Regions from separate parts of the Homo sapiens genome. Here region 2 is linked to region 1. Evidence: fine-mapped expression QTL. Tissue or cell type: whole blood. Region 1 holds a variant in brackets; the other region holds the start of a gene. All regions are shown on one strand. Distances are between the middles of the regions. Region 1 has its middle 26 kb from the start of FGF21. Region 2 holds the start of BCAT2 (branched chain amino acid transaminase 2).

What was found. PIP is the estimated chance that this variant, and not a neighbour inherited with it, causes the effect.
Region 2: BCAT2 starts here. The variant in region 1 is the best candidate, but not a certain one, in a credible set for the expression of BCAT2 in whole blood (INTERVAL, PIP 0.77).

The regions. Positions count from the first base shown.
Region 1 is chr19:48,778,632-48,783,853 of GRCh38, reverse strand. No RefSeq gene overlaps it. Among named protein-coding and RNA genes, the nearest start is that of FGF21, 26 kb to the right of the region's middle. RefSeq lists a cis regulatory region at 2,426-3,066. The variant G/A (reference allele first, on the strand shown) is at 2,244.
Region 2 is chr19:48,807,743-48,812,964 of GRCh38, reverse strand. It overlaps BCAT2 (branched chain amino acid transaminase 2), which reads left to right and starts at 1,936. Exons shown (of 11, transcript NM_001190.4): 1 at 1,936-1,981. The coding sequence starts at 1,958. It overlaps LOC105372432 (a long non-coding RNA gene), which reads right to left. Exons shown (of 3, transcript XR_936017.4): 2 at 4,866-4,996; 3 at 2,128-2,621. RefSeq lists silencers at 361-670, 1,747-1,966, a cis regulatory region at 317-857 and enhancers at 1,719-2,013, 2,287-2,356.

The sequences.
Region 1 (5,222 bases):
AATAAATAAATACATAAATAAATAAAAATTAAAAAATTAGCCAGGTGTGATGGCGTACCCTTGTAATCCCAGCTACTCGTGAGGCATGAGAATAGCTTGAACCTGGGAGGTTGAGTCTGCAGTGAGCCGAAATCATGACACTGCATTTCAGCCTGGGTGACAAAGCAAGACTCAAAAAAAAAAAAAAAATTTTTTTTTCATCCTAAGATCTGGGGTGAGACTCCCTGGTTGGCAATACTGCATGCGTTTTGGCACACGTCATTACCGGGAGAATTGAGCACTGTCTAGAACTCCACTGGGGGAGGACATCTGAAAGCTCACGCCTGGTGTCTCCTGGACTCTGCCCCATCCACGTTTTCCCTTGGCTGATGATGACGATGATGATGACGATGATGATGATGATGATTATTATTATTATTTTGAGACGGAGTCTCGCTCTGTCGCCCAGGCTGGAGTGCAGTGGTGCGATCTTGGCTCACTGCAACCTCCGCCTCCTGGGTTCATGCCATTCTCCTGCCTCAGCCTCCCGAGTAGCTGGGATTCCAGGCGTGTGCCACCACGCCCAGCTAATTTTTTGTATTTTTTAGTAGAGACAGGGTTTCACCATGTTGGTCAGCTGGTCTTGAACTCCTGACCTCAGGTGATCCACCTGCCTTGGACTCCCAAAGTGCTAGGATTACAGGCGTGAGCCACCACGCCCGGCGTACAGTTTAAATTTATAAACATAAAAGAATTTGGGGGCCAGGCGCGGTGGCTCACGCCTGTAATCCTAGCCCTTTGGGAGAACGAGGCGGGCAGATCGCTTGAGCTCAGAAGCTCGAGACCAGCCTGGGCAACATGGCAAAACCCCATTTCTACAAAAAATTTAAAAATTAGCTGAGCGTGGTAGCGAGTACCTGTAATCCCAGATACTCGGGAGGCTGAGGTGGGGGATCGCTTGAGTCCAGGAGTTCCAGGTTGCAGTGAGCAGAGATCGCGCCACTGCCCTCCATCCTGGGCGACAGAGTCAGACCTTGTTTCAATAAATAAATAAATAAATAAATAAATAAATAAATAAATAAATAAATAAATAAATAAGGTGAGGGGGGTATTTCTGAAATGACGTGGAAGCTCGGATTCTTTTTTCCAGAAGCCTCAGTTCAGAGTCTTTTCCAAGGGCCGGTTGCGGAGTTTGAGGATAGAGCACTAAGAGCACCCAATAGGAATGACTGAAAGCCCATGACGTCACTAGTGGCTGGGCAACAGCTCCAGAGTGCCTCTCGCTGACCTGCTTCGGGAAGTGGCCCCCGGTTCGCGTCACATGCCAGCCCCTGGCCTGCGTCACAGACCAGGATACACACCCAAATCCCAGGGGCCAGGAAATGTGTTCCCCGTGAAACCAAATTTAGCAAAGGAAAGAATGCAACAACTTTTAAACTCATTAAAGGCTCCCTGGCCGGGCGCGGTGGCTCACGCCTGTAATCCCAGCACTTTGGGAGGCCGAGGCGGGAGGATCACAGGGTCAGGAGATCGAGACCATCCTGGCTAACACGGTGAAAGCCCGTCTCTACTAAAAATACAAAAAATTAGCCGGGCGTGGTGGTGGGCGCCTGTAGTCCCCGCTACTCGGGAGGAGGGAGGCTGGGGCAGGAGAATGGCGTGAACCCGAGAGGCGGAGCTTGCAGTGAGTCGAGATCGCGCCACTGCACTCCAGCCTAGGCGACAGAGAGCTGTCTCAAAAAAAAAAAAAAATTGTGTTCCCCTTCCATGGATCTTATCTAGAAAAAAACACCTGTTTTTCTCAGGCTCACACTCAACACTTCTGTGACCAGGTGTGTGGGGTTTTTCCCACGCTGACAAATTCTCCTACCCAAGCTGGGTGTCCCACAATTCAATCCAACTCTGACATTATCTACCTGGAGATAGCATCGGATCCCACAGGTGAAAGGCTCAGTCCCACGAGGCTGCCCCTTGGGAGATGCCAATCACAAGTCCACGTGGTCTCACCCGAGCTTCTGACTTGCTAGTAATGGGGGTTCCCATGACTCCCTCCTTAGGCTCAGAAATTTGCTACAATGCCTCACAGAACTAAGGAAAACACATTTATCAGTTTATCATATAATTAAATAAAACCTGTCAGATAAAGAGGTGCAAAGGGCAACATCTGAACGCCTCCCGAGCACGGGAGCAAAGGATGGGTTTGGGGGAGCTTCCAGGTTGGGCGTCTCCATGGAGTTGGGGTGCTTCCCCGCCCGGAACTGTGG[G/A]CAGAGAGCCACCCAGGTGCTGAGGCAAGAGATTGAAGGCACATACTGTTTCAATATAATAAAGAAAATACTTAGAATAAGAAAAGTTATACTAGCAATAGGATATAGAGATGATTATATATGGATATTATCAATTATTAGTTTTAGTATTAATCTCTGTTTTATTATTATAACTGAGGAAAAACCAGGCGATACAGAGTCAGGAGCTGAAGGGACATGGTGAGATGTGACCAGAAGACAAGAGTGAAAGTCCTCCGCCACGCCCAGATAAGGGCTTAAGGACGCCTTGGTCTAGTGGTAGCACCAGTGCCTGGGAAGGCACCCGTTACTTAGCAGACCGGGAAAGGGAGTTTCCCCTTCCTTGGGGGAGTTAGAGAACACTCTGCCTCACCAGCCTCTTGTGGGAGGCCGGACATTAGCCAGGCCTGCCCACAGTCATCCGGAGGCTTAAACATCTCCCTGTGGTACTGTGCTTCAGTGGTCATGATCCTTGTCCACTTTCATGTTCCGCCTGTACACCTGGTTCCTCTTTTAAGTTCCTGGGAGATAGCAGTAGCAGAAATAGTGAAAATATTAAAGTCTTTGATCTCTCTGATAAGTACATAGAAAAAATGCTGACCGTATGCTGTCTTCCCTCTCTGCTTCGTCTACCAAAAAGGGAAAGGCCCCCTGTCACATGGACACGTGACTTGCTTGACCTTATTAATCATTTGAGATGACTCACACTCCTTACCCTGCCCCCTTGCCTTGTATACAATAAATAGCAGCAGTCCAGGCATTCGAGGCCACTAATGGACTCCATGCACTGGTGGTAGTGGCCCCCTGGGCCCAGCTGTCTTTCATACTCTCTCTTAGTTTCATGTCTTTCTTTCTACAATCTCTCATCTCCACACACGAAGAGAAAACCCACAAGGCCCTGTAGGGCTGGACGCTACAAGGAACCTCTCCCACCCCCATACTTTAGGGACTTTTATGGAGACTTCAGCGCATAAGTAGGATAGATTAGTAATTCCAGCTCCAGTTCCCTCTTCTTCCGGAAAGATGTGGAGTGGGATGGGGCTACAGGTTCCATGCTTCTAATATTGACTGAGTCTTGCTGGTGATCAGCCCCCATCAGGAGCCCACCAAGAGTCACCTCATTAGAAAAAAAGGTGCTCTCAGCTGGGTGTGGTGGCTCACGCCTGTAATCCCAGCACTTTGGGAGGCCAAGGGGGTAGATCACCTGAAGTCAGGAGTTCCAGACCAACCTTGCCAACATGGTGAAACCCCCGTCTCTACTAAAAATACAAAAATTAGCCAGGCATGGTGGCGGGCACCTGTAGTCCCAGCTACTTGGGAGGCTGAAGCAGGAGACTTGCTTGAACCCAGGAGGCAGAGGTTGCAGTGTGTGGAGATTGCACCACTGCACTCCAGCCTGGTGACAGAGCAAGACGCTGTCTCAAACAAAAAAAAAAAAAAAAAAAAAAAAAAAAAAGGGAAGAAGAAAATAAAAAGAAAAAAGAAAAAATGATGCTCCCATTACTCAGGAAATTCCAAGGGATTTAGGAGCCCTTTGTCGGGAACTGGGGTCAAAGATCAAATATTAGAACAAAAGATGCTGCTGGCATCCCTAACACTGGGGAAATTATAAGGGGTTTCAAAGCTCTGTCCCAGAAACTGGGGGGACAGAGACCAAATATATATTTGTTATTGTGTGACAGTGCCCCTGGGGGGATTATATCTCCCAGCACCCCTTGCAAGTCACTGGGGTTATGTGAGTGGTTCTGGCCAATGAGAAGAGCCCTGCCTCACTTCCAGCCACACCCATTAGGGAACTTCTAATGTGCCCTCTCTCTTTTCTCTACCTGCCGGTTGGATGCAGATAGCAGTGTAGTAGTCATCTATTGCTGTCTAACAAATTACCCCTGAGTTAATTCCTCACAGCTTAAACAACAAATATTTATTGTATCACATAGTTTTTTTTTTCCCTTCTCTCTCTCTCTTTTTTTTTTAGTAGCTGGGATTACAGGCACCTACCACCACACCTGGCTAATTTTTTTTTTTTTTTTGAGACGGAGTCTCGCTCTGTCACCAGGCTGGAGTGCAGTGGCATGATCTCTGCTCACTGCAAGCTCTGTCTCCTGGGTTCACGCCATTTTCCTGCCTCAGCCTCCCAAGTAGCTGGGACCACAGGCACCCACTGCCACACCTGGCTAATTTTTTGTATTTTTAGTAGAGATGGGGTTTCACCGTGTTAGCCAGGATGGTCTCGATCTCCTGACCTCGTGATCCACCTGCCTCGGCCTCCCAATTTTTGTATTTTTAGTAGAGATGGCCCTGAACTCCTGACCTCAAGTGGTCTGCCTGCCTCGGCCTCCCAAAGTTCTGGGATTACAGGTGTCAGCCATGGTGCCTGGCCTTCTCACATAGTTTCTGGAGGGTCAGGAATCCCAAGCAGCTCGGCTGGGTGTTCCTGGTTCAGGTTTCAGTCAAGCTTGTCAGCCAGGACTGCAGTCATGTGAAGGCTCGACAGAGGCTGGAGAACCCTCTTTTTTTTTTTCTCTCGAGACAGAGTCTCAGAGTCTCACTCTGTTGCCCAGGCTGGAGTGCAGTGGCACAGTCTCCACTCACTGAAACCTTTGCCTCCCAGGTTTAAGTGATTCTCCTGCGTCAGCCTCCCGAGTAGCTGGGATTACAGGCACGTGCCACCACACCCAGCTAATTTTTTGTATTTTTAAGTAGAGACGGGATTTCACCATGTTGGCCAGGCTGGTTCTCGAACACCTGGCTTCAAGTTATCCACTTGCTTTGGCCTCCCAAAATGCTGGTATTACAGGTGTGAGCCACTGAGCCTGGCCTATCCGAGCTCACTCACAGGGCTGTTGGCTGGAGGCCTTAGTTCCTCGCTGGCTGTTGATGTCTGCATGGGCTGCTTGGGCATTCCTCGTGTCTTGGCCACTAGCTTCTCCCAGAGCAAGTGATGAAAGAGAGAGTGAGAGA
Region 2 (5,222 bases), 29 kb before region 1:
CCACTTAGCCCTTGCACCCCAGACCCACAAGTTGCCTCGACCCTGAAGGACTGCAGCTCCCCCCGCCCCCCAACCCCAGGCCTTGCAGCAAGCAGGTGCCTGATGTTGCTAGCCCTGTCGCTGTCGCCAGGGGCTCCTGGGAAGGGTAGAGCGGTTTGGCTTCACCAGCGCGCTAACTAAAGGCCCGCAGGGGAGAGTAAATTAAGCGCTAATTAGGAGGTAATGGAGGGGGAGACGCAGAAGGCCCTCTTACTCTTGGCCCTCAGGGAAAAGGAGTTTTCCTCTCACTGCCTGTAGAATAGGAAGGTGGCTGGCAAGAAAAGTCCAAAGGGAAGAGAAAGTAGGGGGTTGAGACATCTGGATCAGAGGGAGGAGGGGCTGAAACTCCTGGGTTTTGGTCCGCAGGGCACTGGGGGACGCAGACTCCCCAGCTGGACCCAGGGGGGGGGCAGGGCCCGGGTGCGCTGGCGTCCCCCAGGTGAGGGGTGGAGCTGCAGGGCTGCTGCGGATTGGCTGTGGCCGGGGGGGCGTGTGCACCAACCGCTGATTGGCCGCGGCGGGGGCGGGAGCTGTCAGTGGGCCCCGACCCTACAGCCCGGGGCTGGCGGGTGGGGCAGGAGGACTGGGGCGGAGCGCAGAAAAACAGGGCGACGCCCTGTGAGGGAAGGGTCCCGCGGTTTGGCTGTTTGGGCCTGTGGCTGTTAGGGGTGGCAGGATAGTGACCCGGGGACAGGACTTGGGGGCACTGTGGGGGTAGAATTTGGAGACAGAGTGTCCCAGGGTAGGATTGCCGAGACACGATGGCCGAGGGATACGATTTTTTTTTTTTTTTTTTAATTTGAGACGGAGTCTCACTCTGTCGCCCAGGCTGGAGTGCTGTGGTGCAATGTCGGCTCACTGCAACCTCCGCCTCCCGGGTTCAAGCGATTCTCCTGCCTCAGCCTCCCGAATAGCTGGGATTACAGGCCCCCGGCACCACGCTCGACTAATTTTTGTATTTTTATGTATTTATTTTTATTTATTTATTTATTTTGAGACGGAGTCTCACCCTGTCACCCAGGCTGGAAATGCAGTGGCGCGATCTCGGCTCACCGCAACGTCCGCCTCCAGGGTTCAAATGATTCTCCTGCCTCAGCCTCCCTAGTAGCTGGGATTACAGGCGCACACCACCACACCCGGCTAATTTTTGTATCTTTAGTAGAGACGGGGTTTCACCATGTTGGTCAGGCGGGTCTTGAACTCCTGACCTTGTGATCCGCCCACCTCGGCCTCCCAAAGTGCTGGGATTACAGGCGTAAGCCACCGTGCCTGGCCTTAATTTTTGTATTTTTAGTAGAGACGGGGTTTCCCCATGTCGGCCAGGCTGGTCTTGAACTCCTGGCCTCAGGTGATCCACCCGCCTTGGCCCCCAAAGTGCTGGGATTACAGGTGTGAGCCACCAAGCCAGGACTTTTTTTTTTTTTTTTTTTTGAGACGGAGTCTCACTCTGTCGCCCAGGCTGGAGTGCAGTGGCATCATCTCGGCTCACTGCAACCTCTGCCTCCCCGATTCAAGCAATTCTCCTGCCTCAGCTTTCCGAGTAGCTAAGATTACAGGCGCCCGCCACCACGCCCGGCTAATTTTTTGTATTTTTAGTAGAGACGGGGTTTCATCATGTTGGACCAGGCTGGTCTCTAACTCCTGACCTCAGGTAATCCGCCCGCTTCGGCCTCCCAAAGTGCTAAGATTACAGACCTGAGCCACTTCGCCTGGCAGGGACCGTATTTCAAGTCCTGCCCTCCCACCAGCGCCTGCGCCCCGCAGCAGTGTCCGGCTCCCTGCCGACGCCCTGGAGCTGGGACGGCCTGGGGCGCTGGTCGGCCGCCTTCCCCCAGAAGGAGGCGTGAGCGGGGCGTGGCCGGAACGTCTCTCTTCGGAGCCGCGCCCCGGGCGGGCACAGTTACGCGCCGCACGGATCATGGCCGCAGCCGCTCTGGGGCAGGTGGGTTCGCAGCCCCGCGCCGGGGTCTGGGAAATAACCGGGGGAGGCGCACTTCCGGGAAGACCACTGGCCTGCAGCCGGTCCGACTCGGCGCCGCTCCTCCCGCCCTGGGGTTCCGCTGCAGGGCGCGGAGGAGGATGGCGCCCTTTGGAAAGGAGCACGAGGCTTTAATGGGGTGAGGGGGAGCAGGTAGACGCGGATGAGGTGGGGCAAGTAATTGGCGGGGAGGTAAAAAAAAAAAAAAAAAGGGAAACATGGTGGAGGACCCTGTAATGAGGGAGGCGTGGGGGTGGGGAGGTTGTGATTTGGGGAGCGGAGCCCTGGGGTGCGGTGGGGCATCAGCCTGTGCGGGAGCTGGAATAAAGGGGCCCAGACCTCCAGGGCCGGGTGCAGGTGAAGGCAGAGTTGGACCTCAAGTCTCAGCTCTGGGAATTGGACTCAAGGTCCTATTTTCTTGGAATGAAAGTTGAAAAAAATAAGAGATGGGGATTGCTGTGCTTCCCAAACTCCTATCTGAAGCTTTGCACCTGGATTGGAAATCGAGGCAGCGTCTCATGGTCAAAGTGACAGATGCTGCAGGCTGGCTGAGACGATCCCTTCTGACTGTGCGATGTCAAACAGCAGCAGCGTTTCCCAGAGTCTATGATTTCAGAGAACAAGGTTTCTCAGTGAGGAAGGAAACAGCCAAAGAAAGGGGTCATTACAAGCCTTCACAGCTGCGGTGTAACCTTGGGAGAACTGTCTGTTAACTTTACACCTGACTTTATTTGAGTCTCTTATCCTAGCTGATGAATGTCAGGGCAGAATTTCACTTTTTTCGGCTCTTAGTGACTGATAGGGATAGTCCTGGGATACCTGGGGTATGTGGGCAATCTGGGCTTTAGTGGTGACACTCCTGGACTGTGGTGGGGCAGTACTGGGCTTTGACAGGTCCACTTGGGACTGATGTGGACCGTCTCATCATGGCACAGTTCTGGTGTCATAGAATGGCCCTGAACTCATGATGGGACATTCCTAGGCTCTGATGAAGATAGAGATATCCTGTAATGGAGATAATTGGGCTGAGTCCTCAGCTGTGATGGGGACAGTCCCGGGGTGTGGAGAGGACAGTGCTGGACCATGGTAGGGACAGTCTGGAAGGTACTGGCCTAGACAGCAACATAGGGATAGTCCTGGGGATTGAAAAAGACAACAATGGGATTTTTTTTTTTTTTTTAATTTCAGACCTGGTGAATAGGAAATAAGCCCTGATATTTGGCAGAGACAATGCTGGTTATAATGGGGAAAAGTGCTGGGCTTTGGATAGGGGACATTCCTGAGCTGTTTGGGACAGTACTTGGCTCTGCTGGGGACCAGTTCTGATAAGTTACAGGCACAATCTGGACTTGTGATGTGGAGCATCTTGGGCCATCATAGAACAGCCCTGGTCTGTGATGGGGGAGAGTCCTGGGCTATAAAGGGGGCAGTTCTAGACGTGATGGGGTCATGTGTGGGCTGTGACAAGGGCAGACTGCGGTATGATGGGGTCTCTCCGGGGCCGTGATATGGGGACAGTCCTGGAGTATGGAGGGCACTGCTGGGCTTTGACAGTGACACTCCTGGTCTTTGATGGTGATACTCCTGGGCTGTATGGGACATAATGGAGGTTCTATCACATTATAGAGACCTGCCCTGTGAACCCCCAAACGTACTTTATTTCTTTGTCTCGTCTTTTCTTTTTGACCGAGTCTTGCTCTGTTGCTCAGGCTGGAGTGCCGTGGCACGATCTCGGCTCACTGTAACCTCCGCCTCATGGGTTCAAGTGACTGTGGTGCCTCAGCCTCCCGAGTAGATGGGCTCAAGCGATCCACCTGCCTCAGATTACAGGCATGAGCCACCATGCTGGTCTTTTTTTTTTTTTTTTTTTTTTTTTTTTTTGAGAGACACTCTATCACTCATGCTGGAGTGTAGCAGTGTGATCGTAGCTCACCACAGCCTTGACCAGTAGGTCAAGGTGATCCTCCCACCTTAGCCTTCTGAGTAACTGGAATTACAGGTGTGTGCCACCATACCTGGCTAATTTTTAAATTGTTTGTAGAGACAGGGTCTTGCTATATTGCCCAGGCTGATCTTGAACTCCTGGCCTCATGCAGTCCTCCCACCTCTGTCTCCTAAAGTGCTGTGATTACAGGCATGAGCTACTGAGCCAGCTGCCTACTTTCTTTCTTTGTTTTTTTTCTTTTTAATTGAGACAGAGAGTCTTGCTCTGTCGCCCAGGCTGGAGTGCAGTGGCACCATCTCGGCTCACTGCAACCTCCGCCTCCTGGGTTTAAGCAATTCTCCTGCCTCAGCTTCCCAAGTTGCTGGGACTACAGGCGCCCGCCACCACACCCAGCTAACTTGTATTTTCTGTAGAGACAGGGTCTCCCTATGTTGCCCAGGCTGGTCTTGAACACCTGGCCTCAAGCTATCCTCCTGCCTCGGCCTCCCACAGTGCTGGGATTACAGGCGCGAGCCACTGCGTGTGGCCTCTTTCTATGATTAGATCTATTTTGGCATCTCTTGTTTCTTGGCGTCAATTTCTGTTTTTGTTTTTTTTTTTTTCTGTTTGTGCGCCCCTTTCTGTGTTTCTTTTTCTCATCCTTCCTCTTCCATCTCTTACTCTCTTTTTTTCATCTTGGCTCTGAGGGCAGCTCTCCTGCCCACAGGCTGGCTGTCGCACTGTGTTTGTGTCTCTCATACTGTGGGTGTCCTATCCCTCTGGGCAGAAGCATGGCTGCAAGGCTGAGCAGTCTAGATGTCGCCACCCAAAGGCAATCTGGGGACCCACGCTCTGATCACCCCGGAATCCCTGGAGCCTCACACCAGCAAGACCACGCTGCAGGCCCATCTCCCAGCAACTCACCTAGCGACAAGTGACCACGCCCATTCACGTCCATCTTCCAGAATCAGTGCCAACTCACCCAGCTCACAGGGCAGGCCAGGCCAGGCCACTCTGTCTCTCTCAACCTCACGCCCCAACGCCTCCCCACAGGGCTGGGGAAAGAGGCCTTGTGAGGTCAAAGGTCACCAGAGAGGGCCCAGCCTGCTGGACACAGCCAGACCTGCTCTTCCTACTCCCCTCTGGGAGGACCCGCCTGAGCCTCATGCAGTGAGGACTGCAGTGGCTCCCCAGGCCCCTGTAGCTGCCCCTCAGCCCCAGGGGCTGAAGGGAATTGGAGTCACTGCCAAAATGGGTTTGTATTTCAGGTAATCAGAGCCC